3 separate regions of the Homo sapiens genome follow, and regions 1 and 2 are each linked to region 3. Evidence: fine-mapped expression QTL. A gene starts in region 3. Each other region holds a variant in brackets. All regions are shown on one strand. Distances are from middle to middle. Region 1 holds the start of CLDN10-AS1 (CLDN10 antisense RNA 1). Region 2 overlaps CLDN10-AS1 (CLDN10 antisense RNA 1). Region 3 holds the start of CLDN10 (claudin 10).

Region 1 (10,691 bases), 21 kb before region 3:
CCTCCACCTCCTGGTTCAAGCTGTTTTCATGCCTTAGCCTCCAAAGTAGCTGGGATTACAGGCGTGCACCACCGCGCCCAGCTGATTTTTGTATTTTTAGTAGAGACCAGGTTTTGCCATATTGGCCAAGCTGGCCTTGAACTCCTGGCCTCAAGTGATCCACCCACCTCAGCCTCCCAGAGTGCTGGGATTACAGGGATGAGCTACCATGCCCAGCCCAACTTTCACTGTTGTAAGCCACCGAGATTCTAGGGCTGTTATTGACTGCAGAATAACCTTATTAAAATTGACTAAACAACTTGCATCTAGCTTTGTGCGCCTGTACTTTCCCATGCAGTGAGGATTTCTCCTCACTGATTCTGGGTCTATAAATCCTCTTATTTGGATGTTGGATCTCCTGGATCGTTCTTCTATATTCCTTGTCTTTCTCTTCTACTTTCTAAGTCTCAATGTTTTCGCACTTCTCTCTGGAAGATATTGTTAACTTTGTCTTCTAAACCTTCCATTGTGTTTTTATCTCAACTATGGTTTTTTTAATTTCCGAGAGAGTGTTTGTGTGCATTCTCCGAATGTTCTTTAGCTGTGCTTATCTCATGGATGCAATATTTTCTTTTATTTCTGTGAAAATATTAATTATAATTGTTAGATTTTTTTTCTCCCCATCTAACGTTTTCTCCATGTTAGTTGTTACAAGTTACTTTGTTTGTTCATTTGACTTCCCTGTTGGAAATTTCTTCAACTGTCTGCCAGTCAGTTCTTCAGCATGGGAATTTAAGAATTCATTAGAAGCTCTGAGACTGTAGACGGACTTGTCCACTGAGAAGCTCACAGTGGACATTTGTAATGAGCCATTTTACTAGGGAAACTTCAATGTCAGTATCTTTAAGTTGTTCCTTATGAAACTGTCCATTCTCTAGAGATGGATCTCACAGTCAGTCTCTTGTATACGGAGTTTAGGCCTGGCTGCCAATGTTTTGTGTTTTGAGAACCAAATGTAGAAAAATGGCAAGAAGGGACCAGCCTGGACAACATGGTGAAACTCCGTCTCTATTAAAAATACAAAAATTAGACAGGCATGATGGTGGGCACCTGGAATCACAGCTACTCGGGAGGCTGAGGCAGGAGAATCACTTGAACCGGGAGGTGGAGGTTGCAGTGAACCAATGTTGCGTCACTGCACTCCAGCCTGGGCAATAAGAGTGAAATTCCATCTCAAATAAATAAATAAATAAATAAATAAATAAATAAACATGGCGAGAAGGAAAGGAGAGCTGTCTTAGCATTTAGTGTAAAATTTTTAGTTAATCACACTGTTTTAATAATGAAACTCCCTTCTTCATTTGGAACAGGTGTCCCCTAGTTCAACAACCAAAATTTCATCCACCCCAGAGAGTATACTTCCAGCTTTCTGTTCAGGTGAGGAGGGAGGATTTGCCCCCATTGAACAGAGCTGAGTATGAAATATGAGTGTCAAACTTCTAATTGGACTTTCAACAAATCCTCCTGTTTTAGACCCATTTTTGCCACCTTCTTCCAAAGCTTCCAGGGGCCTGCTAATTGTGGCAGTTCTGCGATATAATTTGGGTTGTTTCTTGGTTTTCCTTATTGCCAATTTAGGACCAAACCTCTCAGTTCTGTTAGGCAGCTTACTGTTCATGAATGCTATTTTCAACTTTCATAAAAGGAATGTTATGTTCTTGTTTGCTTCCTCTTTATTCTTGATGGTTTTCAACAATAATTTTTAAGAAATTCATTTACTGTCTTTTTAATAAAATTTCATGAGGAAACAAATACAAATGTGTGTGTCTCCCATCCTTAACCAGAAGTCCACCTTCTTCTCTCTTTAAAATTCTGATATAGAAAAAACAAAAACAGGCCAGGCACAGTGGCTCACGCCTGTAATCCCAGCACTTTGGGAGACTGAGGCGGGTGGATCACCTGAGGTCAGGAGTTCAAGACCAGCCTGGGAAACATGGTGGAACCTCAAGTCTACAAAAAAAAAAAATACAAAAATTAGCTGGGCATGATGGTGGGTGCCTGTAATCCCAGCTACTCAGGAGGCTGAGGCAGGAGAATCACTTGAATCAGGGAGCTGGAGGCTGCAGTGAGCTGAGATTGCACCATTGCACTCCAGCCTAAGCAACAGAGCAAGGCTCAGTCTCGAAAACAACAACAACAAAAATAAATAAATAAACAAAATTAAAAAACTCTGTGGCGAGTGTATATCATCTTATGGTGAAATATTCTATGCATCCAAAGGCAGAGTGTGTCAGCTATAGCCATTCATTCTAACAGGAGTGTGACATTTGTAGGGAAAAGTTTTTTGCTATTCGACTGCTATCATTGAATTGGATGTATGCTGAACCATTGACCACTAGGATTTGTGGCAACCTGGAGATTTCCTGATTCTAGGATCTGTGCTGTGATCTGACAGCATGTTTTCTGGCTACATCAAGTAGTTGTTTCTAGGCTTTGTTCAAATCTTTTTCCTTTCCCTGTGTGACTGGCTGTATCTGTCTCTATAATGCCACCATATACAAGTTGATATGGTTTGGCTGTGTCCTCACCCAATTCTCATCTTGAATTTTGGCTCCCATAATGCCCACGTGTTGTGGGAGGGACACAGTGGGAGATAATTGAATCATAGGGGTGGCTTCCCCTATACTGTTCTTGTGGTAGTGAATAAGTCTCATGAGATTTGATGGTTTTATAAGGGGTTTCCCCTTTCACTTGGTTCTCATTCTCTCTTGCCTGCCTCCATGTATGATGTGCCTTTTGCCTTCCACCATGAATGAGAGGCCTCCCCAGCCATGTGGAACTGAGAATCCATTAAACCTCTTTTTCTTTATAAATTACCCAGTCTCGAGTATGTCTTTATCAGCAGTGTGAAAACGGACTAATGCATAAGTGAATCATACATTTTGGTGTCAAATATTTCTTGCTTTTCCCATATAGTACAGCAAAGAAGGATATCAGCTAGAGGAAGCAAAGAACTGGATGGATGATCCAACCATCTGCCAAAAGATAAATTCAAATAAGGTATCAGCAACAAGTAAGATCAAACAGAAATAAACAAGATGATTCCTTCTCCTGAAAGACTGATAGCCATATTGAGTAAAGCTAAGGAAAGGGAGAATGTCATGTGTGGAGCTCATGGCAGCAGAAAAAAGTACAGACACCACGGCAAAGCCACTGAAGGAGATCTGACTGCATTAATGAGCCATTTTATTAAATGGGTAGTTGGCAAGAAAAAAAGTTTATTCAATAAGTTGGCAACACCAAGTTAAAGAGAGAAGTTAAGTAGGTCATTAAGACACCACAGTCACTAATATTTAGAGCTTGAACATAGTATGAATTGGTTGTCTACAGAGAGTTAGAAAAGGTGCCAAGACACATAACTGAGTGATGGCCAATCAAGGGTGTTTTGTTTCTTTCTGAAACAAAGCTGGGAACAATGTTTTTCTTGTTGTTGTTGTTGTTGTTTTTAATGTAGAACTGGTGGGGTCAGTAAGATATTGCTGCCCATGTCTAGTATTTTTTTTTTAATTTTTGTCTTAATATCATATGGAGGCATGCTGTTACCTATAAATTTACCTATAATTTCTAAATTTAAAAGGAATCCTCAAAATAATCAGAAGAAAATTCAACAGATACTATTGAGATCTCTTTTTGCTCTGTTGATCCATTTATTTCTTCAATCAGTAAGTTAGTGGTGCTTTCTTTTCCTTTGATTGGCAGGTGTTTCATCAGATCTTCTGGGATACTTCTAGTTAGGAGTAAGATTTCTAACTAATTAAAGTGAATAAACACATTTTTTTTCAAAATAATGTACCCTGTTACATAGAAAACAGGGCTTGAAAGGAATTGTTAAGAACCATTCGCCTTATTAATATGTTATTTTTTTGGTGCTGCCAAGGGCATTGGGAACTTCAGTCCTTTGCAGTAGAATTCTTAGCTTCTAGGTGAGCGTGCCTCTAGGCTGGAATAATTTAGTCACCTGGCTTTCCTGTAACTCTTATTATTTTTGGCTTCATGAGGTAGTATTCATACAGAAGTGGTCCTTTTCCATTCCCCAAAAGTCTTTTGTAGGACACTGATAATCTCTTTTCTTTCCCTACTTGTCTACATGAAGTGTGCAAAAATCTCTGGTCATATCCAGGATTTTTATACAAATAAGTAGGTTACAGTTAATATTCCAGTTTCGCTTTTTTTTCCCAAATAATTTAGGGTTTAAGATTGTTATTTCTTGGGTTATCAGGACATAGCTCTCCCTTGAAACTAGCTTATTAGATGTGAACAGTTGGTACTGCTTTTTAATAATTCTGGTGAGGAAAACATTGTAAATTATCCTAGAGTCAAATGTGATATAATTATTATAGAAGGTCACTTTCACTATTTAAAACATTGAGTTGATTATATTTAAATCAAAAAAGATATTAAAGGTGAATAAATTTCACATATTAAAACCTCAAACCACATGCATATAATGCTTTTTAGTGCCCACAAACACCAACCAGAAAGTGTGTGATTAGGTTCACTTTTTCAAGCACCTTTATTTGTTTCCTCTTGATTCACCTAATCACTTTGACAGGGGGGAAATGGGGAGGGGGAGCAGCTTCAAAAAGTTTCCACAGTGGACCATGAGTTATTTAAATCCATCTCACAGAATCCATTTCCCATGCACTGAAAGCCCTGTGACATTTCCAGAACTGCTGTTTACTTTGGGATGTGAGAGATGTTAAAATTCTTTGTGTTTAAACCACAACATTTGTGAGTGGCATGAGACGAAGACTCATGGCAGGTTGTAAGCGGTTGGGCAACCCCTACCGGAAGGAAACAGGCTATTGAATTACTGGACTCAAGAGCAGGCAAATCCATCTGGGGTGGCAAGCCCAGGAAAGGCTGCCAAGAAGGACTTAGAACCACTCTTCG[C/T]CCTTCCCTGCCTGAGTATACTCATCGAAAGGACCCTGTGTGTCTATCTTCATTAGGGCAAAGAGATCAAATCCCAAATTTCATAAAGGAGAATGTTAATGCTATGGTTACAAGCTTTTACACAAAGAAAAATACCTGCTACATAGACACTCAAGGAAAACATCTTGTGTTTATCAACTACCTTGTGCTTATATTTTTTATTGTTTTATCCATATGTTTTCCTAAAGTATGGCCCTGAAATTCACTGATCTTTACAATACCTTATTATAATAGGAACAGTCAAAGAATTATTTTCTTTCTTTACAAATAAAAAATAAAACATGAAACTCACTTACCTAAGTTCATATACTAAGATCCTTCCTAGAAACACCTCTAGCCCTTCAACCATATTAGACTCCAATGAGAAGAAACTGATCATCTTTCCTTTTTTTTTTTTTTTGAGATGGAGTCTCACTCTGTCACCCAGGCTGAGTGCAGCGGCACAATCTTGGCTCACTCAGCCTCCCGGGTTCAAGCGATTCTCCTGCCTCAGTCTCCCGAGTAGCTGGGACTACAGGCGTGTGCCACCACACCCGGCTTATTTTTTGTATTTTTAGTAAAGACGGGGTTTCACCATGTTAGCCAGGATGGTCTCGATCTCATGACCTCATGATCTGCCCGCCTCAGCCTCCCATAGTGCTGGGATTACCAGGCGTGAGCCACCACACCTGGATGATCATCTTTCTTAAATAACAAAATATGGTAGACTTTAAATTAGCATATAATGGCAGTAACATAATTTTTTATTTTGCATTTTCAAGGCCAACTTAATTTTCAAGTAAAGATTCCAATGCATTTGATTAGCAATATGAAAGTTATATCCCTGAAAGAGAAACAAATTGATTCATATTTTAAAGAAGCCATAGGGCATCAATTTTTCTAGTAGGCGGTCAAAAGTCATTATATCCTCATTATTAAACTCTTATCCAGATTACAGGATGTAAAATTTAAATTAAAAGAAGGAAACTTTTGGATGTTGATTGCTCAGTATTACCTTTTTTTTTGAGACAGGGTCTCACTCTGTCACCCAGACTGAAGTGCAGTGGTGCAATCTTGGCTCATTGCAACCTCCACCTCCTGGGTTCAAGCGATTCTTCTACCTCCCCTCTCAAGTAACTGAGACTACAGGCGCCCACCACCACGCCTGGCTAATTTTTTTTTTTTTTTTTGATATTTTTAGTGGAGACGGGGTTTCACTATGTTGGCCAGGCTGCTCTCGAACTCCTGATCTCCACCCATCTCAGCCTCCCAAAGTGCTGGGATTACAGGCATAAGCCACCGCTCCCGGCTAGTATTTACATTTTTAAAAAGATAAAGGAATAGATCTGCGCTTACACATGTGTTTGATTTTCCACAAAGGCACCAAAACAGTCCAACAGGAATTTAAACAAATGGTGCTAAAGTAGCCAGAGAGCCATATGGAAAAATGAATCTAACCTCTGATTCATACCAAACAAACAATAATTAGAGATGGATCATAGGCCACATAAAAAACAGCTAAAAGCAAAGGGTTTAAAATGAAAATATAGGAGAATATCATCATGACTTGGGGGTAGGCAAAGGTTTCATAAGATAGGTCATAAAAAAGCAATAACCATAAGAGAAAAAAATTTATATACATTAGACATCATCAACATTTAAAACTTCTGCTCATCAAAAGATGCCTTTGAGAAAATAGGCAAGCCATACACTGAGAGAACATATTCACTAAGAATGTATCTGATAACAGCCTGGTATAGAAACAGCTCTTACAAAAACAAAGAAACAACTCAATAGAAAAGGAGCAAAAAATTTGGACAGGCACTTCACAAAAGAAGGTATTTGAATGGGCAATAAGCACATGAAAAAGTGCTCAGCATCATGAAGTTATCAGGGAAATAAAAATTAAAATCACAATAAGATATCATTGAATACCTACAAGAATGGCTAAAACAAGAGACTGATAACATCTAACGTTGGCAAGAATGTAGAGTACCTGCAAGTTTCACACATGGTTAGTGGGAATATAAAATAGTACACTTTGAAAAATGGTGAGGTAATTTCTTATAAAACTAAACATACACTTACCCTCCCACCCAGTAATTCTGATCCTAGATATTTACCCATGATAACATGTTCACAAAAAAACTTGTACAAGAATGTTCATAGCAGCTTTATTTGCCCAAAACTGGGAATAGCTCACATGTTAATCTGCAGAAAAATGGATAAACAAACTGTGATAGCTTCAGATACTGGAACTCAATTCAGCAAAAAAAAAAAAAAAAAAAAAAGAAGACATGAACTGCTTATATGTGCAACAACATAGATGAGTCTTAAAACATACTGAAAGAAGCCTTATACAAAAGAGTACATGCTGTTTGATTGTATCTAGATAAAGTTCTAGAATAGATAAAACTAGTCTACTGTGGAAAACACAAGAAAAACGGGGGGAGTGGGATCGACTGGGAAGGAGTATGAGAGAACTTTCTAGAAAGATAGTGTTTGTTTCATTTACACAGATGTATGCATTTGTCAAAAGTTAGTGAATGTACACTTAAGATTTATAAATTTCATTGTATGTAATTTTTACATCAAAAGAAAAACTAAATATTAATATCTAGCTAGTGATATGCTTGCTGAAGGATTTAGGAGAAATTGTACTGAGGCCTGCAATTTATTTTTAAATATTCCAAAAAAAAAAAAAAGATTGATAGAGGGAGGGAGAGGGGGAAGAAGAGAGACAGAGCGAGAGAGCAAAGCAAATAAAATGTTTATGGTAGAATGTAGGTGTTGGGTATGATATATGGGGTGTTTACTGTAAAATTCAACATTGCTATATATTTTATAAAGTTTTATGAGAAAATGTTGGGGAAAACAAAAGTAGATTTTTAGAAGAAAGAACCAGTTTTCAATAATCTTTAGATATAACACTCCCCTAATACATTTCACAGAATTGTTTTCCAATGGGACTATTTGATAATAAATAACTAATTTGTTCAATCCATTAAAAAATAAATCACGCTGGTATCTTGAGTCTCTTCTAGTAATTGTACAGGTATAAGAAGGTGGAGGGGAAAACCTGTAGGTCAAATAAATTAGGAAGTATTTATTGAGCTTTTACTATCTGCCTACCCGGTGAGATACAGAGACATCCAAGACTTAGTTAGATCTTACCTGCAGGGGCCACACTCTCACTTGGCAGCCATGAAGAATGAAGCAAAGGTCAGGCCTGCGGGCAATGCAGGGTAAGGATAAGGACCCACATGCTCAGCAGTACCTTCAAGGCCCCAACCCTGCTTCTCCCCTCCACTCTGATCTTCTCTCTTTCTCCCACCACAGGTCCCTCTACCCAGACTCTACCCAGAGCTCTGTCTGCCAGGCTCTCCTCCCCGGCACCAGGCTTGAGTATTCCGCCTCACTCACCAAGCCTCAGCCCCCGCCCATTTCCTCAGGGACATGCTCCCTGACCCAGAGCAGAGATCACGTTCTTTGTTATACAGTTTCAGAGTACAGTAGTCCTTTATTAGAGAGCATTTGATTCAGTTTATAATTACATGGTCACTGAGGGATCGTTTGGGTAATGTGTGTCTCCCCTACTAGATTTTCAGCTCCATGAGAAAAAGAATTGTATTTCCTTTTTAATTCTCATTATATCCCCAGCAATTTAGCAGCATCTGCTATGTAGAAGGTTACATATGAAAACACACAGAAAGCATTGGGTGTCTTTTTTTTCCTTCAAATAGGAAAGAAAAAGAAGAAGAAAACATGGTTATAACCATATGAAGCTACTGCCAGGACGATATGTTAATAAAATAAATTTAAGAAAAGATTTGTTAAAATCAAAAGAGGAAAAATATTTGTAGAATTATAAAATCTTATGTGGTAAGGGATATTGTGGGTCATCTGGTCCACCTAAGCTTAACTATACTCCTGTCAAATGTATGAATATCTTTAGTAAATATCTTTTGTTATTTTACATTTTTAAAAATAACTTTTTATATCAAACCGTTAAAAATTCAAAAAAAAATCAATTCTCCATCTTCAGAAACTGATTGTTATATAAAGAATTTAGTATAATGCATGATTCACAGTGATAGTTATAATAACTACTACTAGTAGGAGTATTACCAGGAAACCTCTAAGTTGTAGTGCATCATTTTGATAAGAACATGTGTTTTGGATCATTTAAAAAAAGGGGATTAAATTATAACTCTGCCTCTAAATGGCAATACATCTTTGAGCAATTTTCCTAATATCTCCAAACTTCAGGGTTTTTTTTCTCCTGGCATTCAATAAACGGTAGCCAATCATGGTTATAATATAACAACAACAGTGAGGATGAATAAGAATCTGTGTTTATTCTCAAAGCGCTCACAGCTCAGCAGGGACATGGATACAAACTCCAATTCTGCGCAGTAAATGCAACAATGGAAGCACGCCACCAAGAATGAGAGAGTGACTCTCAGGCCTGGTCTATTGGGGGAGGAAAGAGTTTTTTTAAAAAGTAATTAAAAGGAATTCTCCAGGCTAATTAAGCAAAAAAGGCATCCTGGGTGGAAGAACACTGCCATGCATGCTTGCTATGATCCAGCAGAGTATTCCAAGGTGCAGCATGGCAGGTGATGGGCTGAAGATCCTAGGATACCTTTTGTGTCATGATAAGATACACAGATTTCATTCTGCAAGTAATGAGGAGCCCGTGAAGGGTTTTAAAGGGGTAAAGAAACAATCAGGCTTATCTTTTAGGAAAATCAGCTGGGGAGTCATATTAGAAGGGGTGAGCCCTGGGGCAGGAAGACCAGTCAGGCTAGTGGATGGAAGAGGTGATGAGGGTCTAAACTGGGAAGAGTAGTGTGGGCCTGGAGAGGTGAGAATGACTCATGGCAGTTCAGAAAGAGTGTCAACAAGATTGAGTGATGAGGAGTACAGAGGGAAGAGCGCCATCCAAGATGACTCAGGAACACTCATAACTTGCTTGGCAGACTGAGTGGGTAGACAAACAAATATGGTTCATGGTTCAGTGGAGAAAATACAGAAGGGAGCTGCGGGGGAGGTGGGGGTGAGAGGTTTAGTTGTAGACATAATTGAGGTCTCCATACCTGCGAGCCACCAGGAGAAAGGAGAAGATGTCCCATAGGCACATGGGACATCAGAAGAACTGATTCTGGGTCAGGGAATCCCATTATGGAGCCACCAGTTGGTTCAGGGAAAGACTGTGATGTGAAAAGGGGTAAGTGCCAAGTACAGAATGCTGGAGATACCAGCCCATGAGGAGACATGGAGACGAATCGTGGAACAGGCAGAGAAATCTAGGCAAGAATGGGGCTATGGAAGCCGAAAGAATAAAGTATTTCACAAAGAAGGAACTGAGCAACTATGAAAAAGGTGCAGAGAAAACAAACAAGATAAAGAATGGGGACTGTTCACTAAGTCAGGTAGCACAAAACCACTTGTCACTTTTGCCTATGGTGTTTCAGTGGAAAGGGAAAGGTAGGAAAGATGGCAGTGGATGGAGAAGTAGATGGGTGGTGGACAGAGAGACTGTGATACTGTAATAGACAAGTCTATTGAGATGGTCAGTTAAAGAAGAAAAATGAAGAATATGTTTTAAATGTCTCTCAAGATATCTTTAAATACATTTGTGTATTTTCCTAAATTTGAAAAAAAAAAAAGTCCTTAATATCTGCTTCATCTAAGCAGAAAGATCACCTGAGGTCAGGAGTTCAAGACCAACCTAGTCA
Region 2 (10,691 bases), 71 kb before region 3:
AGGGTGACTGGCTTGGAGCTCCAGGAAGGTGGCAAGGGCTCCATTCCCACCTCATCCTCCAGCTGCCTTTCTCTGGGTGGCGTCTCAGTGAAGCCAGCCTGGGGTCTATCCTCATGTGCTCTCATGATCCCAAGCCCACCTGCATGGGTCGAGGGTCCCTGCATCTCTCTCTCTCTCTCTGTCTCTCTCTGTCCCTCTCTCTCCCTCTTTCCCTCTCTCTCTCTCTCTCCCTCACCCTCTCTCCCTGTCGGGACTTGAGCACCATGGCTCTGCTGTGATGAGCACCATGGCTCTGCTGTGATGTGACTTATGATTGATGCTGCCCCTGAGCGTGCTGGGTGGTCTTCTATGCTTGTCACAAATCTCTGCCATCTAATTCCACCCCCATCGCCCAGATTGCTTCCTTCCGTGTGCCACTCCCCTTCTGGGCACTTGTGGTGATAGGACATATGAGGGGAGGAGCTGGTTTGGGAGGCGCAAAGGCATGATAAACTCGATTTTGAATGTGTCAAATATGACTTACAGGCAGGTTGACAGGATAGAGATGGATTGTCGGCATTTGGTTAGACGTGTGTGGAGCTCAAGAGGGGAGCCTGAGCTGGTGTCTTAGTCTGTTCAGGCTGCTATAACAAAATGCCTTAGATCGGGTAACTCATAGACAACAGAAATGTATTTCCCACGGTTCTGGAGGGTGGGAAGTAAGTCCAAGGTCAAGGTGCTGATGGATTTGGTGTCCGGTGAGGGCTGCTTTCTGATTCACAGGTGAGTCTTCTCTCTGTGTCCTCACGTGGTGGCAGAAGTGAGGCAGCTCTCCGGAGCCTTCTGTATAAGGGCACTAATCCCATTAATGGGGGCTCCACCCTCAAGATCTAATCACCTCCCGAAGGCCCCACCTCCCAACGCCATCACCTTGGGCATTTGGATTTCAACGTGTGAATTTTGGAGGGACACAGATATTCAGACCATAGCAGCTGTGGGTGAAGATTCAAAGACTCAGAAACAGATGGGACCTCCCAGGCAGTGTGTGAAGGGCAAGGCTGGAACCCTGAACACCAGTGACAAGTAGGAGATGGAGAGAGAAAGGAGGATGCTACCATGTGGATGAAAAGGGGCTTTAACACATATTGCTCAGGTGGCCTCACTATGAAATAACAGGACAGATGAAGTCACTGAGTCTCGGGGGCACCTTCACAATCTCTCACAGCTGTTAGTGGCAGAGCCAGGTCTCCAAGTTCAGAATTTTTCTCCCTACATTTGTTCACTTATTCATTCAACAGTCACTGATTGTGCTCTTTTCTGTGTGTGTACAGGGTCTTGTGTTCATACCATGAGCAGCATAGCAGGGACCCAAGCAAGACTGGGAGGAGAGGCGGGATGCAGACAAGTTGGGAACCAGCCACGCCTCTCCTCCTAGCAGGGGAGTTGCTCTAATAGGTTTTAATTTTATTCAGCTTTGGTGAGGCCAATAGATCAGATGATGACTCTCACTGAAGAGAGAGTTTCTTACTCTCAGATCTAAGAGAAGTGGGCACGCCACGCCATGCAGGGACACCCGGGGCAGCACGAGGGCTGGTCAAGAGGCAGAGGGAGAAGAGAACGTGGCCAGAGCCCTTATTATGGTTTCCACAGGAAAGAGTGGGCAAGGCAGGGTTAGCTAGCTCAGGACTGGCTAGTTTAAATCATTTCAGCAGGCTCTGGGGCATACAGGCTGTTCCTATTTGTCAGATACCTGGTCCTGGGTGATTAGGGCAGGGGGATAGTGGCCTGGAGTGTGAGAGCCAGATAAGGGAATTGGTTGGGATGCGAGCTCTGGGTTGGTTTTCATTTGAAAAGCATATCACCCGGAGGACTCCTTCCAGGGGGAGGGGGACAGTGAGGGAGACATATTATTGGGTTGCACAGAGCAAGGTGTGTCCTGCAGATGCACGCGGGGCAGATGTTAAAGCATCAGGTTTACAGAAAGGAGAAACATGGTTAATACAGAAGCAGAAAAGGAATGCAAAACAGAGAACAACTGCAAAGGTGCACATGCGGAAACACAGGTTGATGTCCTGCCAACCCTACTGTGGATGGTCTGTGGACCAGCAGCACCTGGGACTTAGAGAGGCAGCGTCTCAACCCCTCACCCCAGACTGAACGAATCTGAATCTGCAACACCCTCAGGTAACCCATATGTATCTTAAGCCATGATAAGTACTGGCATCAGCTGCAGACAGGCCCGTGGACAGATGGAGGAGGAGGAGGAAAACGTGTGGTTCGTTAGGGAGGCTTCTTGGAGGAGTCCTCTAACAATGAAAGCCAGCTTTCATGTGAAAAGAAATGAGATCTTTTGCCTAAAACAGTGGTTCTCAAAATTGGCTGCAAATTGGAATCACCTGTTGTGTTTTAAAAAGCTCTGGAGGCCAGGCACAGTGGCTCATGCCTATAATTCCAGCACTTTGGGAGGCTGAGGCTGGCAGATCACTTGAGTCAGAAGTTCAAGACCAGCCTGGCCAACATGGCAAAACACCATATCAACTAAAATAGAAAAAAAAAATAGCTGGACATGGTGGTGCATGCCTGTAGTCCCAGCTACTTGGGAGGCTGAGGCATGAGAATCGCTTGAGCCCAGGGAGCTGAGGTTGCAGTGAGCCAAGATCGCACCACTGCACTCCAGCCTGGACAACAGAGTGAGACTCTGTCTCAAAAATAAATAAGCAAGTAAATAAATAAATATAAAAAGCACTGATCCCTGCTTCCAAACACTGGAGATTCAGATTTAATTGAGATAAGGCCAGGATGTAGAGCGTTTACAGAACTCCCCAGGTGATTTAAACATACAGCCATGTTAGAGAACCACTGGCCTTTGCCATACGGAAGATATAATGTGCTGTACCAGGACCAGAGAACAGAGAAACAGAGGAATCAGATGGTTTGAGAGCAAGACCAGGAGTGTGCAGGTCTGCCCGGTGGGTGGGGTGAACAGGGAGGGTGCGCCTAGGATCCTTCTCCCCTCCCATCCCCATTTGGCTTCCTGGGCCACGTTCCTCAGCGCTTCGTTGGTTCTTACCCGGATGCTTGTATTCTGCTTCCCCCTAGTGGTGACTTGCAGTATGGCACAGCTGTCGCTGGCGGTTTCATTAAGGTTCCGCGTTCATCACTAACTTGTGACAGTGAGTTACAGCCTGTGGTCTCGACAGGTGGGATCATCCTAAGAATCATGTCCTGTGAGCATCTTCGCCATGTGACTTCAGGAGTTGCTCCCTCACAAGGAGCCTCAGGGAGTTATAGGTCACTGGCCAAGCACTGCCCTGGCACAGGGCTGCAACTGCAGCCTAAGTGGCTTCCTGTGCGTAAGGTTTAAGGAACTTTCATTTTATTAGCCAGTGGTTAAGTGCCTGTGAGAGCAATCATCAGCAGGTGCAGTGGTAGAAGATAACAAGCTTCCTAATAAATAGTGGCCACCGGCCGGGTGCAGTGGCTCATGCCTGTAATCCCAGCACTTTGGGAGGCCGAGGCAGGCAGATCACGAGGTCAGGAGTTCAAGAACAGCCTGGTCAACATGGTGAAACCGTATCTCTACTAAAAATATAAAAATTAGCCGGGTGTGGTGGCGGGTGCCTGTAATCCCAACTACTTGGGAGGCTGAGGCAGGGAAAATTGCTTGAACCTGGGAGGCAGAGGTTGCAGTGACCTGAGATCACACCACTGCACTCCAGTCTGGGTGACAGAGCAAGACTCCATCTCGGGGGGAAAAAAAGTGGCCACCACTTAAATCTTTGTAGCAAGAATGGGTTTTACTTAATTATCACATTTCATTCCAATGACAAGCCTGAAGGTATTAGGATTGTCAAATATTTTTATTGCAAATATGCATTACTAAGGCTATTTTTTAAAAAATACTTCGCTATATAAAGTCATATTCTTCTCTGAGATGGACATTTAGCAAAAATAAAGTCACAGACTTAACATTATAGTCATGAATAAATGTTTTAAAATTATGAGGGAGAAAGAACATTAACTAGAGAAAATGTTGCTACATCACTTTCAAAATAAGCACATATTTTAAACAGACATGGTTTGCAGAAGAGGATTCTCATCTTACAGATAAGAAAACAAACCTGGAGACCTTAAGGAACTTGATCAAGGTCACATAGCCAGTGACAGATGCAGGGTTTGAACCCACATTGGCTGGACAGCACTGTCTGTATGTACAGCTCCTCCCACATCCCCTGCAAGAGTCCAGGGGTTCTCACCTGCTCAAGGGTTTGCAACAGAGACTTCACTTGAATCCCTGATTGAGTCTCTGGTTCCTCCAAGCTCCCCTAGTTCCTCTTTGTATTAGTCCATCTTCACACTGCTAATAAAGACATACCCAAGACTGGGGAATTTATAAAGGAAGGAGGTTTAATGGACTCACAGTTCCACATGGCTAGGGAGGCCTCACAATCATGGTGGAAGGTGAAGGAGGAACGTCACATCCTACATGGTGGCAGGGAAGAGAAAACTTGTGCGGGGGAGCTCCTTCTTATAGAACCATCAGATCTTGTGAGACTCACGATCACAAAAACAGCATGGGAATGACCCGCCCCCATGATTCAATTACCTCCCACCGGGTCCCTCCCACGACACATGGGAATTGTAGGAGCTATAATTCAAAATGAGATTTGAGTGGGGTCACAGCCAAACCATATCTCTCTTCTTTCCAGTTTCACATTGACTCAGAC[ACTTC/A]CTTCGGTAGAGCAGTCTCTGAAGGCCCTGTATTAGAGGAGAATGCCCTTGCCCAATCCTGGCAGAAAACCTCTCTCCACAGCTCACACCCAGAGCTGGGCTCAGGCCAGATGCGGAAGAGAGATAATGAGAGAAATAGGAAGCGTCTGAAGCTGGCAGCCATTGTGGTCCCCTGAGCTGGCTGGTTCCTTTTCTTCTCCCCTGAAGCTCCTGCCCACTGGGAGCCAGCTCCTGTCCACCCTACCCCAGTTTCAAGAGTTCCTAAAACTCTGGTGTGAACCAGAACCACTGGGAAACTTGTTAGAATGCAGATCCCTTGGCTCCACCCTCAAAAATTCTGATTCAGGATAATCAAAAACGGGACCCAGGAATTTGCATTTTAAGCAAACAACCCACGTGAATTCTGCTGCATGGGGTCCTCAGAACACACGTTGAGAAATATTCAATAGACACGCTATTCACATTCAAGAGTACCAATGAAGGCCCATAAGCTATGTTGAAATACTTAGAAGTTATCTATCAAGTGAATAAACTGTCAAATATATATACATAACTACATGGCAGGCTAGAATTCCTGGGCTCTATAGCCCAAGCCAGAAGGTAATGGGACAGCAAGAGCTAACCCCCAGCTGCCATCCTTCCCCTTTGTCTTCCCACTTTATGCCATGAGGAACTTGCTTCTTGAGCAAGAGGACACACCATCCATAAATTCAAGCACAGGCACTCTCCGTCCACCCTGTAACAGCTGCATCTTGACCACCTATTGGGCTAGAATGGACCCCAGAGAGGAAGCTGGCATTGACCCTGGAGGCAGAAAATTCCCAGGCACTCAGAGCATGGCCTAGATGGGGAAGAGTTTCCAGGAGGACGCATGCCCTTGACCTTGCAGACTCATAATTTTAAAACATTTATGACTAACTATAATGTTAAATCTGTGACTCAGTGCGGACCTTGCCTGCACTGAGGGGAAGGGCAGCAGAGGATGGCCGGGGCAGAACCCTCTAAGCTGACATTTCTCCAACATTCATGGGAATAGAAATTTCCTGGGATCTGAATCAGTAGGTCTAGGGCAGGGACCAAGATTCTGCGTTTCTAACAGCCTCCCAGGTAAAGCTGGTGAGGCTGGTCTTCAGACCACAGAATGAAGCAGCAAAGCTGTAAAGCAGGGGTCAGTACCAGGTAGTAAACTTTTAGTCTCTGAGGGCCATGTGGTTTCTGTGGCAATTATTCAACTCTGCTGTTGGGCATGAGAACAGCCACAGATGATATTTAAGAGAATGAGCATGGCTGTGTTCCAGGAAAACTTCATTTGTGAACACTGAAATTTGAATTTCAGATAATCTTCCTATGTTGCAAAATATTCTTCTTTTGGGTTCTTTCCATTATTTAAAAATGTAAAAACTCGATCAGGCACAGTAGCTCACGCCTGTAATCCCAGCATTTTGGGAAGCCGAAGTGAGTGGATCACCTGAGATCAGGAGTTGGAGACCAGCCTGAGCAACATGGCAAAACCCCATCTCTACTAAAAATACAAAATTAGCTGGGTGTGGTGGTGCATGTCTGTAATCCCAGTAACTTGGGAGGCTGAGGCAGGAGGATCACTTGAACCCAGGAGGCGGAGGTTGCAATGAGCAAAGATCGCACCACTACACTCCAGCCTGGGCGACAGAGTGAGACTCTGACTCAAAAAAGTAAAAACTCAATCATAACGTAACTTAATTGTACATGTAAAAATAAAAGAGTATAATTGGATTGTTTGTAACACTAAGGATAAATGCTTGAGGGGATGGATACCCCATGTTACATGATGTGCTTATTTCACATCGCATGCCTGTATCAAAACGTCCCATGTACCCCATAAATATATACACCTACTATGTACCCACAACAATTACAAATTTAAAAATTTACAAAAGATTTTTAAAATGTAAAAAACATTTTTTACATAGGCTATACAGAAACAGGTCTGGATGGGGAGGTTAGATTTGGCCCAAAGTCTGTAGTTTGTTGACCCCTTCTCTAATATATATGGCCCAAGTCAGGCGCCGTGCACAGCTGGGTCTAAGAGCTGTGCTGATCTACAAAGCCCACATGAAGCTGCTGTGGCAGAAAGGGTCTAGAGCCTCACTGAGTCATGTCTTTTGGGGATAGATGGGTCTTCTAGGTGCCCATCAAATCACACCTTCTCGGGCTGCCTTCAGTGCACACCTATGAGACCAATCTTGCTGATCCAGGGCAGGAAGTCTAGTCCAGATCCACCCTGCTGTGTTACCCAGGAGCTCAGATTCAGTCTCAGAACCATCTGGATTGTTTTATTCTCATGATGTACTTAATCCTGATTGAAGTATAAATGAATAAACTGGCTGGGCGCGGTGGCTCACGCCTGTAATCCCAGCACTTTGGGAGGCTGAGGTGGGTGGATCACCTGAGGTCAGGAGTTTGAGACCACCCTGGCCAACATGGTGAAACCCCCATCTCTACTAAAAATACAAAAAATTAGCTTGGCATGGTGGCGTGTGCCTGTAATCCCAGCTACTCCGGAGGCTAAGACAGGAGAATCTCTTGAACCCAGGAGGCAGAGGTTGCAATGAGCCAAGATCGTGCCACTGTACTCCAGCCTGGGCAACAAGAGCGAAACTCCATTTCAAAAATAAATAAATACATAAATAAGCCCATTAAACATCACGAATTTAATGTGAGGCCAACATTCTTACTGGTGAGAAATGATTCTCCATCGTTCTTGGGAGAAAGTGACGCTGCCCGTCCTCAGGCCTGGGAGCTGCTGAGGAGGGGAGAGTGAGGAGGTTGGTTTATGTAAAAGGTGTGGCACTGCCACTCTGTGCAGATTCCTGGAGGATTCACCTGACTACTTATTGATTTTTCATTGAACAGCTTTCTCCTCGTTCAGACTGTGGGCTCTCTGAGAAGATGGGGAAACATTATTTGGGAGATTTACCCTTAGGGTGAAAATTATCTAAGCTTATTTCTCAATTTCCCTCTCCTCCCCTCATTTCTCATCTCTAATTTTTTTTCTTTCTTTTTTATTAAAATTTTTTGTAGAGACATGGTCTCACTATGTTGCCCAGGCTGGTCTTCAACTACTGAGCTCAAGCAATCCTCCTGCTTTGGCCTCCCAAAGTGCTAGGATTATAGGCATGACCCACTGTGCCCGGCCTCTTAATTTTTTAAGCATCACAGGTTGTATCCCCAGAAACCAGACTCTAAAGAGGCATTTCATGAAGGCGTGCCTGTGGGAGGGACCACACCTGTGGAAGGTAGGGGACAGAAGCAGGAGTGGGCAGAGCAGTGACGTTGAGCTACAACCCAAGGCTGACAGTCTCAGCAAACCTCACCAAGAGCTCTGGAGTTAGGTGGACTTTTAGAAACATGCCAAGCATGGCTGAGCTGGCCAAGCCCTTATGCTCCACCATCCATTGGTCACTCGATATGAGCTTCCCCAGGCATGAGTGTGCTATGGTCTGAATATTTGTGTCCCTCCAAAACTCGTATGTTAAAATGCTAACCCCCAAGGTGATGGTATTGGGATGTGGGGCCTTTGGGAGGTGATTAGGTCACAAGGATGGAGCCCTCGGGATGGGATTAGTGCCCTTATAGAAGACACCCCAGAGAGGTCCCTCCCTTATCCCTTCCACCACATGAGGATACAGTAAGAAGACATTCTCTATCAGTTAGGAAGCCAACCCTCACCAGGCATCAAATTTGCTGGTGCCTTGACTTTGGCCTTCCCAGCCTCTAGAATTGTGAGAAATACATTTCTGTTGTTTTTGAACTACTTAGTCTCTGGTAGGATAGCAGCCCAAAAGGACAAAGATAGGGCATGTCCTTGGGTGAGGCAGCTCTCTGCAGCTCAGTCACTTTCTGAGAGGGCTAAGAGCTACAGGCTGACTGCAGCAGCACTTCTAGCAGCTGGGGCCTGATGTCCTTCACTGTCCTTTCTGGGCAGCATATCACAGTATCCACTGCACACCACTCGGCTATCATTCTGTTCAGATACTTCTTGACTGGTCTTTCTACTTCTAATTTGTTCCATGTAGAATCTATCCTAAACACTACTTCCCTAATCTTTCTTAAAGGAAAATATTGGTAAAATATTTCATAGTCTGTCATTATGAATAATTTTATATGTCATTCCCCTGAAAAGAGGTGTTACAAGGTCAAGTTTTTTCAGTTATGCAGGAAATGTAAGTGTGTAAAGAAGCAGGATGAGGCCAGGTGTGGTGGCTCACGCCTGTAATCCCAGCACATTGGGAGGCCAAGGTGGGCAGATCACTTGAGGTCAGGAGTTCAAGACCAGCCTGGCCAACATGGCGAAACCCCGTCTCTACTAAAAATACAAAAAAAAAAAAAAAAAACCCACAAAAATTAGCCAGGTGTGGTGGCAAGCACCTGTAGTTCCAGCTACTCGGGAGGCTGAGGCACAAGAATCGCTTGGACCCAGGAGGTGGAGGTTGGAATGAGCCAAGATTGTGCCACTGCACTCCAGCCTGGGTAACAAAGTGAGACCCTGTCTCAAAAAAAAAAAAAAAAAAAAAAAAAAAAAAGAAGCAGAGTGCAATACAACATGGTATGATGGGGTCTTATTTAGTTTGATTTAGTTTGCCTCCACTTCACCCCACTGGTGAGGGAGGGATTCCGCCCTAGAGTTGAGAGGATGGTTGAATGTACAACATCCAAGCCTAGACAGATGAGATGGGCAGCAGGTAATTAGTCACATATGCTCATGGCCCAGGGAAGGACGACACTGCCCCACAGAGAGCCACGTGGGGGTTGCAGCTGGGAACAGAGTGAACCACCAGGAAGCTGTGGGAGGCAGGCTTTGTAGTAACAAGAGGGCGAGGTGCCCCTGGTTCCTGTAAGAGGATGTGTTTGGTTTGCTTGGATAATTCTACAGGCTGACGGGGACCTGAAGCCTAGCACTGCGCCTGGTCCCTTTGATAAGGAGGGTTGCTTGGCTAGAGGACTTTATCCACCAGGAGCAGAGTGGGAGGAGAACTTGCAGTTAATCCATTTGAGCCTCTGTACCCTGATTTTACCAGCCTCCATGGTCAAGGCAGCACTTAGTTTTGAATCTTAATTTCAGGCCTTACACCACAGGTCTATGAGTCATTGGAGCTGAATTTCCTATCCAAAGGTATTCAAAATTATTTTCAAATCTGATCTGGCCAAACAGAATTCTACCATTCATCACTGCTGGTTTTCAAGCCCGGGCCCACTCCAGATTCCCTAGAATGGCACATCAGGGCATTCCTAATCAGGCCTAATCCATATCTCCTTTCTCATCATCCCTGCTAAATTTCAGCCTGAGTTTACACACATTCACTGGACAACTTGTGTTTTTGGCATACTCAGCTGTATGTTTTTCCTCACTCTATTTCCTCCAGATAAGGACTAGAAATTCTAGCCGTGCTTTGAGGCCAACTCAAATGTAACCTCCTCTGGGGTGACTTTCCTGGGCATTGCAGGATAAGTGCCTGGATGGCCTTGATAACCCAGCTCTTCCCCCATTTTTCACTTGTAGTTCTCAGAATAATGCTAGAATGTGCTGGAAACAACATTCTGAGATAAGGAAAAGCTGTCCAGAATATGCCAGATTCTGTTTCTGTTCCTCTTAGGACAAGATGTCCTCCAATGCTGTGGTCCAGTGATCCCAGTTTCCCCCCAGGGTATAAAACCCAGAGTGGAGTGCTTTCAGAGTGCCTCAGCTACAGTGCATTGTGGGGCATGTGCAGACAAGACTCCATCCATTCTGAGTAGCTTCCTGAGCCTTGCAGAATCAGCTCGCAATGGATGCTAGGCTTCTGTTGTGCCTTGCTGCCTATCTGTGATGAATAAAGTTGCTTTGCCTAACTTGTTCTGTGAGTGTTCTGTCTCCCTCAACTCCTGCAAGTGGTAGAAATTGCAGCCCAAGATGCAATAGGCGCATTTTGGGAGGCCGATGTGGGTGGATCACTTGAGGTCAG
Region 3 (10,691 bases):
TTTCCCCACAATGTGAGCCACGTGGTAACTTGGGACTTCTGAGTAGTTTGGAATAAACTTTGCACCTGCTGTATTGTGAGGACTAGAGAGAGGAGCAAGTATCTGCATTTGGTAACAGACACTAGACTGTATTGCTTCCCACTCCTTACACCTAGTCATTGAGAAAACTGAGGGCTATGGAAATCATTCACCCTGTCCTCAGTGTCCTCTGCTCAGCTTCTCGTCCCAGTGCTGTCTCCCCTTGATTTCCCACTTCTTCTCTTCTTTATCTTTATTTCTTGCCCCTTGCTTTTCTCTTTGCAGTTTCTGTTCCCCTTACTCTCTCTGCCTTATCATTGGTCACTTCTTTCATTTATTTTTACTTTTTTAGAGACAGGCAGGCTGGTCTTGAACTCCTAGCTCATGCTCCCAAAGAGCTGGGACTACAGGCGGCTGGCTAACTTTTTTTTTTTTTTTTTTTAAGAGATGGGGACTCTCCCTATGTTACTCAGGCTGGTCTGGAACTCCTAGGCTCAAGTGATCTTGCTGCCTCAGCCTCTGGAGGGGCTGGGAGAGATTACAGGCACCCAGCTGTTCACCCTTTTAAATTTAACTGTCCTCCAGTTTTATTTCTCACTTTCCTTTGCAAGCGCCTCACTCCCAACCACTTTTGCTCCCCGGGACTATCCTCTGCTCTGACTTCCTGGTTTCCCTCCCTCTGCCCTCACTCTGGGCACCAGCCCCTTCCATGTTGGCATTCGACTCCACACTTTCTGCTTTCCTACTTTGAGATTTGCAATACACTTCAGCCTTATTCACTTACTGCTGTTAGCCTAACCGATTAATACCATTTTTATGAAAAAATGTAATTGTATCTCTTTAAAGAGACACAAGGAAATGAGAGGCATGAATGAACTGAATAATATTCATTATTTACTAAGCATCCACTACATTCCTGTCCTTCATATACATTGTCTCTATTCTTCACAACGCCTTTGAAAGAAGCTGTCATTTAGTCCCACGTTATACTTGAAGAAGTGATGCTGAGTGAGATTAGGTGACCTGTCCAAGGTCATTCAGAGGTAGAATTTTATCTCACATCTTTCTGATTACATCATCTACCCTCTGTCCGCTATATCTCCCTGACTCTTAAGTGAATGAAAGTACCATGCCTTATCACATTTCTCCTAAACAGAAGGAATAAGTGACAATAAGTCTACATGTAGAGATTTTAGATTTTCTCCATGCACTGCCTCTCACATACACATCTATACAGACGCCACCTTTAAATTTAACAAAGGAGGGAGGCAGAAAGTGGGAATAAAACAGTAAAGACACCAAAGGAAAACTGCTACTCTCCTCTCCTTGATGTTATCTGTGAATGACTAAGTTCATTAGGAATCCTAGACTCAGGGGTTTTTGGAGTTGAAAGTGGTCTCGGAAGATATCCAGAATAACTCCTCTGTTTTACAAATGAGGGAGCTGTAACTCAGAGACATAAAATCACTTGCCCAAAACATATAAATTAACATACTGCCCCGACCTGGGTGGGAGGTTATATTGATATTCATCAAGTGCTTATGGACAAACAAAATGTACCCAACCTGTCTACAAGCCCTGGAATGTTCTAGCATCACAGAGTGAGAGTAATTCCAGGCTCGAAGGGTATTCCTGCTGGGGCCCAAACCTTACCCCTCCCCTTCAGGGGCTCAAGAGGAGTCTACTAAGATAATTTAGAATTGGGAATGAGTGTGTTTCAAATGAATGCATGAAAAACAAATCCACAAGGTATATGGCACTGACTTGTAATAGGCCCATAGAAATATTCTGATGGAGTACAACTTCACAGGTTGCCAAATGACAGAATAAGGCAACTGTTTTTATAGTTATAATTTGCAAAAAAAATTATAGATATATATTTATATATGAATGGTGATGCAATGGTGAGAATAACTGTTCATTCTGTAACTATTCCTATCACTCTGTAGCTTTCATGCTAAGTAGATTACAAATATCATTGGATTTGCATAAGCATTAAGATAAATGAAATGTTAGGGAAAATGGAAGGAAAAAGAACACAGATATGCTCTTTTAATATCTTGGTACCGGCATTAATGTCTTCTTTAATGTGATGTAACAATACTTGGCTCCTGGGCAGTTGTTTTTTTTAGTTAATACCGTATCATCAGGAATTCAGTTTCTTCCCACCTGATTAGCAGCACGCCACCTCACTGGAATCTAGGAAGGAGCTAATGTATACTGAAACCAAATCTGATGCTTAGAAAATCCTTGAGCTATTGAAAGGCACACCTGCGTTGCTTGGTAGGTGTACTGAATCTCAAGTAAGGAATTTCTGCAAATCTCCTGTTTAGTTGGCTAAACTGGTTTTCACTCCTATTGAACAACCCCAGGGTGGGGGGGATCCTCTATTTCTCTTTAATAACCATAATAAGCCAAAGAAATAATTTTCAATGCTAATTCCAGTGACTTAGACCTCAAAAGTAGAAAGGCTCAGAATATGTTTGAGGGCATTGTATGTCTTCGGGTCAAATTTATAGATCAGTTAGTAGTTTTCATATTGGAAAAGATCTATAGCTTTTTGTAAAGACTAAACTATTGTTAACTAAGATGTTACTTTGAATAATTTAGAGGAGGCAACCTTTTTTGATGTATTCACTTTTATATTTAAATTAAGAATAGTCTCTTATGAAATTTCAGTGAACTGAATCCTAAAGAAAATAAGGAAGCATTTATCAGTCGAAAGTACTCTGTAAATCGGCTTGCAGATTAACTGCAAAGGTTATTTGGGAACTGTATAATCTTAAAGCAAAACAAGACATTTATCCATTACTTCTTTTCAAAAATCTCTATTTGGTCCATTTTTATTTTCTGGACATTCTTTTTTTAGATTATATGCTACTCCATAATATCTTTAGAATTCTCCTGACAAAACTAGCTTGAGAAGCATAAGATATAAGACATTCTAAAATAAAAATGTTTGATTCATTACATAATATTATCTAGGTATTAAAGAAAGTTAACATTTTTCATTCTTTGGTCAGGAACTCATGGCCTCCAACATACAGCTTTCCACAGTAACTATGTAGTACATCCTAGGGAAGATAAAGAAAAGAGTTTAGGGTTGTCCAACCTCATAGAAAGGAGAAAGGAAAATTAACCAAGTCCACAGGCATGACGACCCTAGTCTGTTTTAGCTGCCAAAGGAACTAATAATGCTGCCATTTAAGTTTTAATTTATGGATTGTTTGTGGTGTTTCCCATCCCTTTTAAGTTGAAATTGTGTGTTGCAATCTCTACAGTAATAGAATATTTCTTTTTTCAAAGTATTCAACAATGAGTTTAATATTCTTTCTTCCTGTGATGCATACCACCATCCGTTATGCTAAATTAACTGTTTATACACACATACACAGAGCTCAACTGGTCAGAGCTGTGGTTCTCAGCCTGAGTCCACATTAGAAGTTTTGGAAATACTGCTACCAAGGCCACCCCCAGAGATTCTGGCTTCACTGGTGTGGCGATGCGGCAGAGAGAAGAGTGTTCCAAGCAGGAATTCAGAATTTGTTTCTTCCGGATGCTATGTTGCAACGGTAATCTGGGCTTATGGATTTTTGAAGTATAATGGGTAGAGCTACATTATGTGTTAAATAAACTTTGCAGACTGGTTTAAAACACCAAACCATTCTTCAAAGTTCTTTCTTTAAAACAAACAATGTGCCTTTGGATCCAAACAGTGGACTTCATAGCAACTAGGTGATAAATTAGGAAGTGCTTGAGTCTTAAAGGTCACAGCACTACACTTGTTTTGTGGCAAAAGTAAGTCAGGGTTTTGTCTAGTAAAAACAAAGAAATAATCAATTTAGTGAGTATCTACCATAGGCGAGCCACGGTAAACAAAGGGACTATCGAACAAGGCCAGGAAATAAAGTATTAAATTTGTGTAATTTGTAATTTTAGAAAAATCAGTAAGAAATGTTATGGTTAGTGGGTTTTGTGTTTTTCAAATAGTAATTGGATCAGAAATAGGCAGATTATTCAGGAAGGAATATGGCATAGAAATAATAGTGGAAATATGCTGGAGGGCAAAAAAACAGATGATAAAACACTTTAAAAAGGCAAGCCATACAAAAGAATAGAGGATGCTTTGTAGTCATTGCTCAAAGGTGACTGATTTGCATAGCAAGGAGAATGAGAAGGAAGAGGTTAGGAAGATACTTTTTTTTTTTTTTTTTTTTTTTTTTGTATTTTTAGTAGAGACGGGATTTCACCGTGTTAGCCAGGATAGTCTCGATCTCCTGACTTCATGATCCGCCCGCCTCGGCCTCCCAAAGTGCTGGGATTACAGGTGTGAGCCACTGCGCCCAGCCAGGGAGATACTTCTTAAACTCAGTTTTTAAGTTTAGTTTACCAGTGAACCTAACATGATACATCAGGACAAGCTGGGGTTCAGAGCAGAACAGTAGGGTAACCATGTCTGCATTGTCACCCTTGTACCCATTCACGAAAGCCATGGGACCATTAAGCACAGAGAAGCCCACTACCTGCCAGCCGCTGCACGGCTGCAACAAGAGTAGGACTTACTTCGTGTTCTCAGAGCACAGATTACAACATTCGGGTAGACATTGAAGAGAGACAGATTTGGGGCTCAATAGGAAGAAAAGCTTTTTTAAAGGGCTGTCAAAACAACATGAAGAAAAACAGAATAGATACGTTGCCATGCACTGAACTGCTGGTCCTGAAGGGTGGAGCATGGGCTAAACATTATCTCTAGAAATAGACAGGAACATTGTTTTGAGTGTGGAGCGTGTCCTGCTGGTCTACAGTGATTCTTCCAATCTAAGTTTTGATGATTCTATGTCCAGCTTCCTCTCTTCTCCAGTCACCTTGTCGCCTCTAATTTCACTGGGCACCCATTTGGTTAAAAAAAAAAAGTGACAAAGGGAAATTAAGAAATTCTTCACATTGAACCAGAGTGTTTCTGCCTAAAGATAGTGACACAGAGGGTTAGCACGAGATTTATCACAGCAGACTGATTGATAGGTTTTAGACCTTTCCTTACTTTTGGCAACAAGTGAAACCTGGAAGCTCATAACAAAACTGCAAGAACCTTTAAGTGGACAAATAATAACCCGTGTCCTTGTTCTCTCATTTATGCCCAGATTTGTGGCCTCAGGAGCCAGAAGTACACCTTGATCTTTATGTTTACCTTGAGACAGCAATGAAGGGATGAAGGAATGAATGAGTTTATATTTCAATTAGGCGTGAGAGATGGAGGTGGTTTAAAAAAAAATAAAAGACAAGATAGCAGTTTTGACTGGGATAACAGCATCCTTTCATAGAATAGCCTCTAGACCTGGAAGCTGGAAGGGACCTACAGGGAAAATGTGTTGAACAAATGCCCTCTGCGTAGTGCATTAGTATGAGTACACCAGCAAGATCAAGATCGTCAGGATGCCCCATCTGCTGCTATCTTGACTTTAGGCCTGTGCCACGCACCGTTTTGCCATGACTTTCCGCATAGCACCAGGCCAAAAAGAACTGCAGAGTTTTGAGGGCAAGGCCGGTTTCCAGCCCAGAATCTGCAATGATCCCTCCTTGACAAGTCAAACAGAGTCACCCAAACAAGCGTGGCACGCAAACCTTTAGAGTTCAGCAAACCGAGGGCTGAGTTACCAAACCGTGTCCTTTCAGGGCATGCAAAAGGCTTTTCCTGCTCTGCTTCTACAAGGTAGTCAGGAAGCCAAGCTATTTGCCTTGGGTAGGGCTGGGTGGGGGTGGTGAGGTGGGGGCGCAGCAGGTTGTCCACACCCGGTTGCCAGTCTGAACCTGAGCCGCTCCAACAAGCGAGCCCTTCTCCGCGGCCCTTTGGCTCAGGGGAGCGCAGGCCGGCCTTCCTCCCGCACGCGGGCGCGGGCCAGCTGCAGATGGAGAACCCGGGGGGCGACCGCGAGCCCTCTGAGGCCCCTCAAGGGACAGGGCATGGGTGTGAGGGGTCGCGTGCGCCCCCTGGCGCCGGGTCCGCTGGGCGGGGTGGTGGGCGGGGACGGTGGGCGGAGGCGGAGGCGGGAGGCGGAGCCCCGGGGTTGGGAGTGCGGGGGTCGCGGCGCAGAGTGGGAGCCGGAGAGCGAGCGCGGCTGCAGCCGGCGGCATGGCTAGCACGGCTTCGGAGATCATCGCCTTCATGGTCTCCATCTCAGGCTGGGTACTGGTGTCCTCCACGCTGCCCACCGACTACTGGAAGGTGTCTACCATCGACGGCACGGTCATCACAACCGCCACCTATTGGGCCAACCTGTGGAAGGCGTGCGTTACCGACTCCACGGGCGTCTCCAACTGCAAGGACTTCCCCTCCATGCTGGCGCTGGACGGTCTGCATCCCCGCGGCCCCCGCCCTCAGCCCTCCTTCCTTGATGGCCAGCCCGCTAGGCGCCCTCTCGCCCCCAATACCCCCAGCGGGACCCCTAGACTGGACTCCTCTGAGGCCCGACCCGTCTCTCCCAACAGGGCCTTAGGGAGCCAGGGACGCTCCTGGTGCCCGCCCTCTCCTGATGGCTGTCTCGCGGGGCGCCTGTTCGAGCCTGGGACCCCGGGAGGGGGGACACGCAGACAGGCCCGGGTTGGTGACTCCCAGGCGTCGGGGGATGGGGAAGCTTTGCGGTCCTGAGAGTCAAGGAAGCGGCTGCCCTCCCCCACCCCCCATATCTTGGGGACCGCTGGGACCCAGAGTTCATGCTGCAGGGGCTTGTCTCCTCCACCTCCCTCCCCTACGTTCCCCGAAGGCTGGGTTCTGATAAAAATGGTGTCATTGCAAGCCAAATCCGTTTGTCCTGACCTCCCTTGAGCCATTTCGTTGGTTCTTTTAAAAGTAGGCGGGGGTGGGGGTTGAGAGGTTGGAAGCGGGAAAACATATTGCAGAATTTGTTGTTGTTATTGTTTCCCTTTAAAGAGCTTCTACAAACTTGTCTGCCTAGGCAACACTACAAACACTTCCTCCGAGTTTTAGGAAAATAATAGCCCTTGCGGTGCCGCGATGAGTCCGCAGAGGGTAGGGAATCTTGGGCCGTGAGAGCGTGGCGCCGGGAGCTGACCAGTTCTGCATCCGAGTCCCCGGTGCCTGCTGCTGTCCTGGGTTGTTCCTTTGTGGAGGTTCACCTGCGTTGCTCTGGTTAGTCAGGCCTTATGCTGGTAGCAGCTGGTGGATATTCACACAGAACTCTGGCTCTGTTGAGTTTCAAGACAACAGCCGATGTCAGCCCGGTCCCATTGATTGCTCAAGTTCTAGGCCCGTTGCTTCCAGGATTTTACAGCAAACGAATCCTGGCAGAAACTTAAGAGGAGTTATTTACATTACATATTTCTAGATTTGAGGTGTTTTTTTCTTTTATTACCGCACTTGCAGGTTTTGTTTACATAGCTGGGTAAATGAAAGAAAATAGTTGATTCCTCTAAGATGGGGTTTGCCACGAAGAGCAAACTGTTGCTCAACGTGGTATTTGATGGAACCTCCGTATAAGGAATACGCATCTAGTTTTAGAAGGGTGGCGCCCGGGTCCGTGTCCTGTTCGGTAAAATAAGCAGCCGGAACAGTGTTTATTCCCCAGCATTACCGTTGAATTTCCTGTGGTTTGTAGAGCACGCATCCAGGTAGATGAACAGGCATTCTCTTGTTCCTGTGATTTATAGTCAGCAATGTGTTACTGTCCTCTGAACACTCTTCTGTTGTAACTCTATTGTTCTCTGAGATAGTGTGCCAGATAGGTACGCTTCCTTCTGTAGGACAGTTGGGGGACAAGGGAGAGAAGGAAATGAATGCTCTATGAATATTATTAAGTGCAGAATAATAAAGTTTTCTCCTACATGTCTGCAGTGAGAGTGGAGGTGGTACCATACCTGTTTGGGGGCAGATCGGGCCGGGAGTGAAGAGGAAGTAGGAATAGTTGTCCTGGTTAGCTGGGAGGAGAACAGAGAGGAGTGACATTTTTATGCCATCCAGCTTGCAAAATGGCCTTCCTGTGTGCTCATGTGACTAAAAAATGACTTTTAAAAACATAAATGGCATGACACTACCTACTGTTGTACAACACTTTAAAATCAATGTATTTTTCCAAGTCAGTACTTAATAGAAGTGACTTGACTCTGTGTAACTGCTGCATGGTATATTCATTAGACTGCATAAAATGGCTTAGTTAACCATAGATCCATTGTGGACATTGGACCTTTTCCAGCTTTTCTTTGTTGGTGGTGCTTTACTGAAAATCTTATATTCACCTCTTTGTATGTGTGTGTATTTCTGTAGACTCCATTCCACTGAGAAATGGTATCGTAAGAGCAGTAGAATACACGTGCATTTTAATATTCAGTTCATACTGTCAAATTACTTTCCACTGACAGTGTATGAGAATACCTGCTTCTCCACATTCTCACCACTCTGTGTTAATCCAGTTTTTTTTTTTTTTTTTTTTGAGACGGAGTTTTGCTCTTGTTGCCTAGGCTGGAGTGCAGTGGCACAATCTCAGCCGACTGCAACCTCCGCCTCCCAGGTACAAGTGATTCTCCTGTCTCAGCCTCCCAAGTAGCTGGGATTACAGGCATGTGCCACCATGCCCGGCTAATTTTTTTTGCATTTAGTAGAGACAGGGTTTCACCATGTTAGGCTGATCGCGAACTCCTGAACTCAGGTCATCCACCCTCCTCGGCCTCCCAAAGTGCCGGGATTACAGGTGTGCGCCACCGCGCCCAGCCATCTTATCATTTTAGTTGGCATTTCCCTTATTGCCGTGGTCAAAATCACTGGTTATAAAAATGGTCAAAACTCACTGACCGTTTTTTTTTCTCTTTTGTGAATTGGCATCCATATCTTAGGCCCATGGTTCTGTTGTTTCTTTGTGGTTTCGATGATTTGTCAGTCCTTGATTTGTTATGTAGGTTGCAATCTCACACCATTGTTCATCTTTTAAATTTATGATGCCTTTTCTCACACAGGACTTTGAAATTTGTAATAGAATCATATTTATCAGCCTGTTTTTTTGATGACTTTCCTTCTGTGGCTTAAGATGGCATTTCTTACCGCAAAACAAACTTACTTTTCTGTATCTCTCAGAATAACATCTTGGAGGGTTAAATCATGCAACTGTGTTTTCCTGTGGAGGGGAGTTGATTCCCCCACCTGCAAGTGGAAGCTTCCAGGGTAGGGGCCCTCTGTTTGTCCTCTACCTTGCATTCCCAGGTCAGCCACATCTGGTGGGTGCTGGTCCTGACATTGCCTTTGGAGAAAGTGGCCATGGTGGCCTGAGTGGAACAGCCCTCCCCTTAAACCCAGGTATGAGCTCTAGATTGGGAAGAGAATCCAGGAAGGGAGAGAGAAGGCTCGTGACTCTTGCCTATCTTGTGTTAGGTAGAAGAACTCTTGGAGTCAAACGACGAGGTCATTATTCTGAATTTCTTTTCTTTTTTTTTTTGAGACAAAGTTTCACTCTGTCCCCCAGGACAGAGTGCCATGGCATGATCTCTGCTCACTGCAACTTCCACCTCCCGGGTTCAAGCAATTCTCCTGCCTCAGCCTCCTGAGTAGCTGGGATTACAGGCACCCACTGCCACACCTGGCTGATTTTTGTATTTTTAGTAGAGACAGGGTTTCACCATGTTGGCCAGGCTGGTCTTGAACTCCTGACCTCAAGTGATCTGCCCGCCTCTGCCTCTCAAAGTGCTGGGATTACAGGCATGAGCCATGCGCCCAGCCCTAAATTTCTTATATAAAGAAATCTCTGATTCCCCTCCCCTAGGGGTATCATTGCCACTTGTTTTCCTTATAAGAAAAATGAGGCCTAGCAAAGCTATATGTCTAGATTTAACGTTATGCCATATTAAGAACCCAGCTCTAATTTCTGCTTAGAATCCATTGTAGTATTATAATATGACGGGATGCTTTGATGACTTTCTTACTGCTCAGCAGACATCCATATTATTCATCCTGTGAAGGAGGTGCTGCCATCCCTGTTTTACAGATGAGAGAACTGAGCCTCAAAGAGATTAGGTCCTATAACCAAGTACATACCTTGGGTAAATAGAAGCACCAGAGGTGAAACTCAGAGTTCCTGCCCTCCCCATACCACTGTTCTCTCAAAGGATTTGCAGAAGTACACAAAGCTACCAGGAAAAGAAAAGCACATTCTTTTTTCCCCCCTAAATCCATCAACTAGCACAGGTGCTATTAGCGAATTGTCTCCACCAAGTGGATGTTTTCGTTTTTTGCTGATTTGCAATTGAAAATAAAGTACACATAATTTGGAAAACACTTAACTTTTAAGGAACACCTTGAAGCTTTCCTCCAACAGAGTTCATTAATTTAAAGTCACTGTATTTTACTATTTGAAAATTTCACAGCTGAATGAGCTTGTGATTTCTGTTTATTGTTAACCCATACTCCTTTCAAAGTACCACTTGAACTTCAGCTGAGTATGATTTTCAGCCAGCTTGTTTTTAGTGTATGCCATCTATTTTTGCTAGTGGGAATGCTTGCCATTTCTCCCAGGAGAACTAACTATAAATTATACTTCAGAGAACTTCTAAATAAATATGTTCATGCCTCAGCACCTTAATGTGTTAATTAGCTATTAACAGTGTCAGTAAATTAGACCTGTCAAAAATAATGGCCTCCTTGACTAGGTTTTTACTAACACTTCTCCTGGTGG

The links. PIP is the estimated chance that this variant, and not a neighbour inherited with it, causes the effect.
Region 1: its variant is fine-mapped to the expression of CLDN10 in whole blood (TOPMed, PIP 0.97).
Region 2: its variant is fine-mapped to the expression of CLDN10 in whole blood (TOPMed, PIP above 0.99).

The regions. Positions count from the first base shown.
Region 1 is chr13:95,525,574-95,536,264 of GRCh38, forward strand. CLDN10-AS1 (CLDN10 antisense RNA 1) reads right to left here and starts at 8,337. Exons shown (of 4, transcript NR_046533.1): 1 at 8,125-8,337; 2 at 2,919-3,014. It also overlaps a transcript of CLDN10 not described here. RefSeq lists an enhancer at 9,722-10,016. The variant C/T (reference allele first, on the strand shown) is at 4,933.
Region 2 is chr13:95,475,624-95,486,314 of GRCh38, forward strand. It overlaps CLDN10-AS1 (CLDN10 antisense RNA 1), which reads right to left. Exons shown (of 4, transcript NR_046533.1): 4 at 3,821-4,339. It also overlaps a transcript of CLDN10 not described here. Among named protein-coding and RNA genes, the nearest start is that of CLDN10-AS1, 53 kb to the right of the region's middle. RefSeq lists enhancers at 2,985-3,344, 4,683-4,762. The variant ACTTC/A (reference allele first, on the strand shown) is at 4,707.
Region 3 is chr13:95,546,606-95,557,296 of GRCh38, forward strand. It overlaps CLDN10 (claudin 10), which reads left to right and starts at 6,115. Exons shown (of 5, transcript NM_006984.5): 1 at 6,115-6,368. The coding sequence starts at 6,149.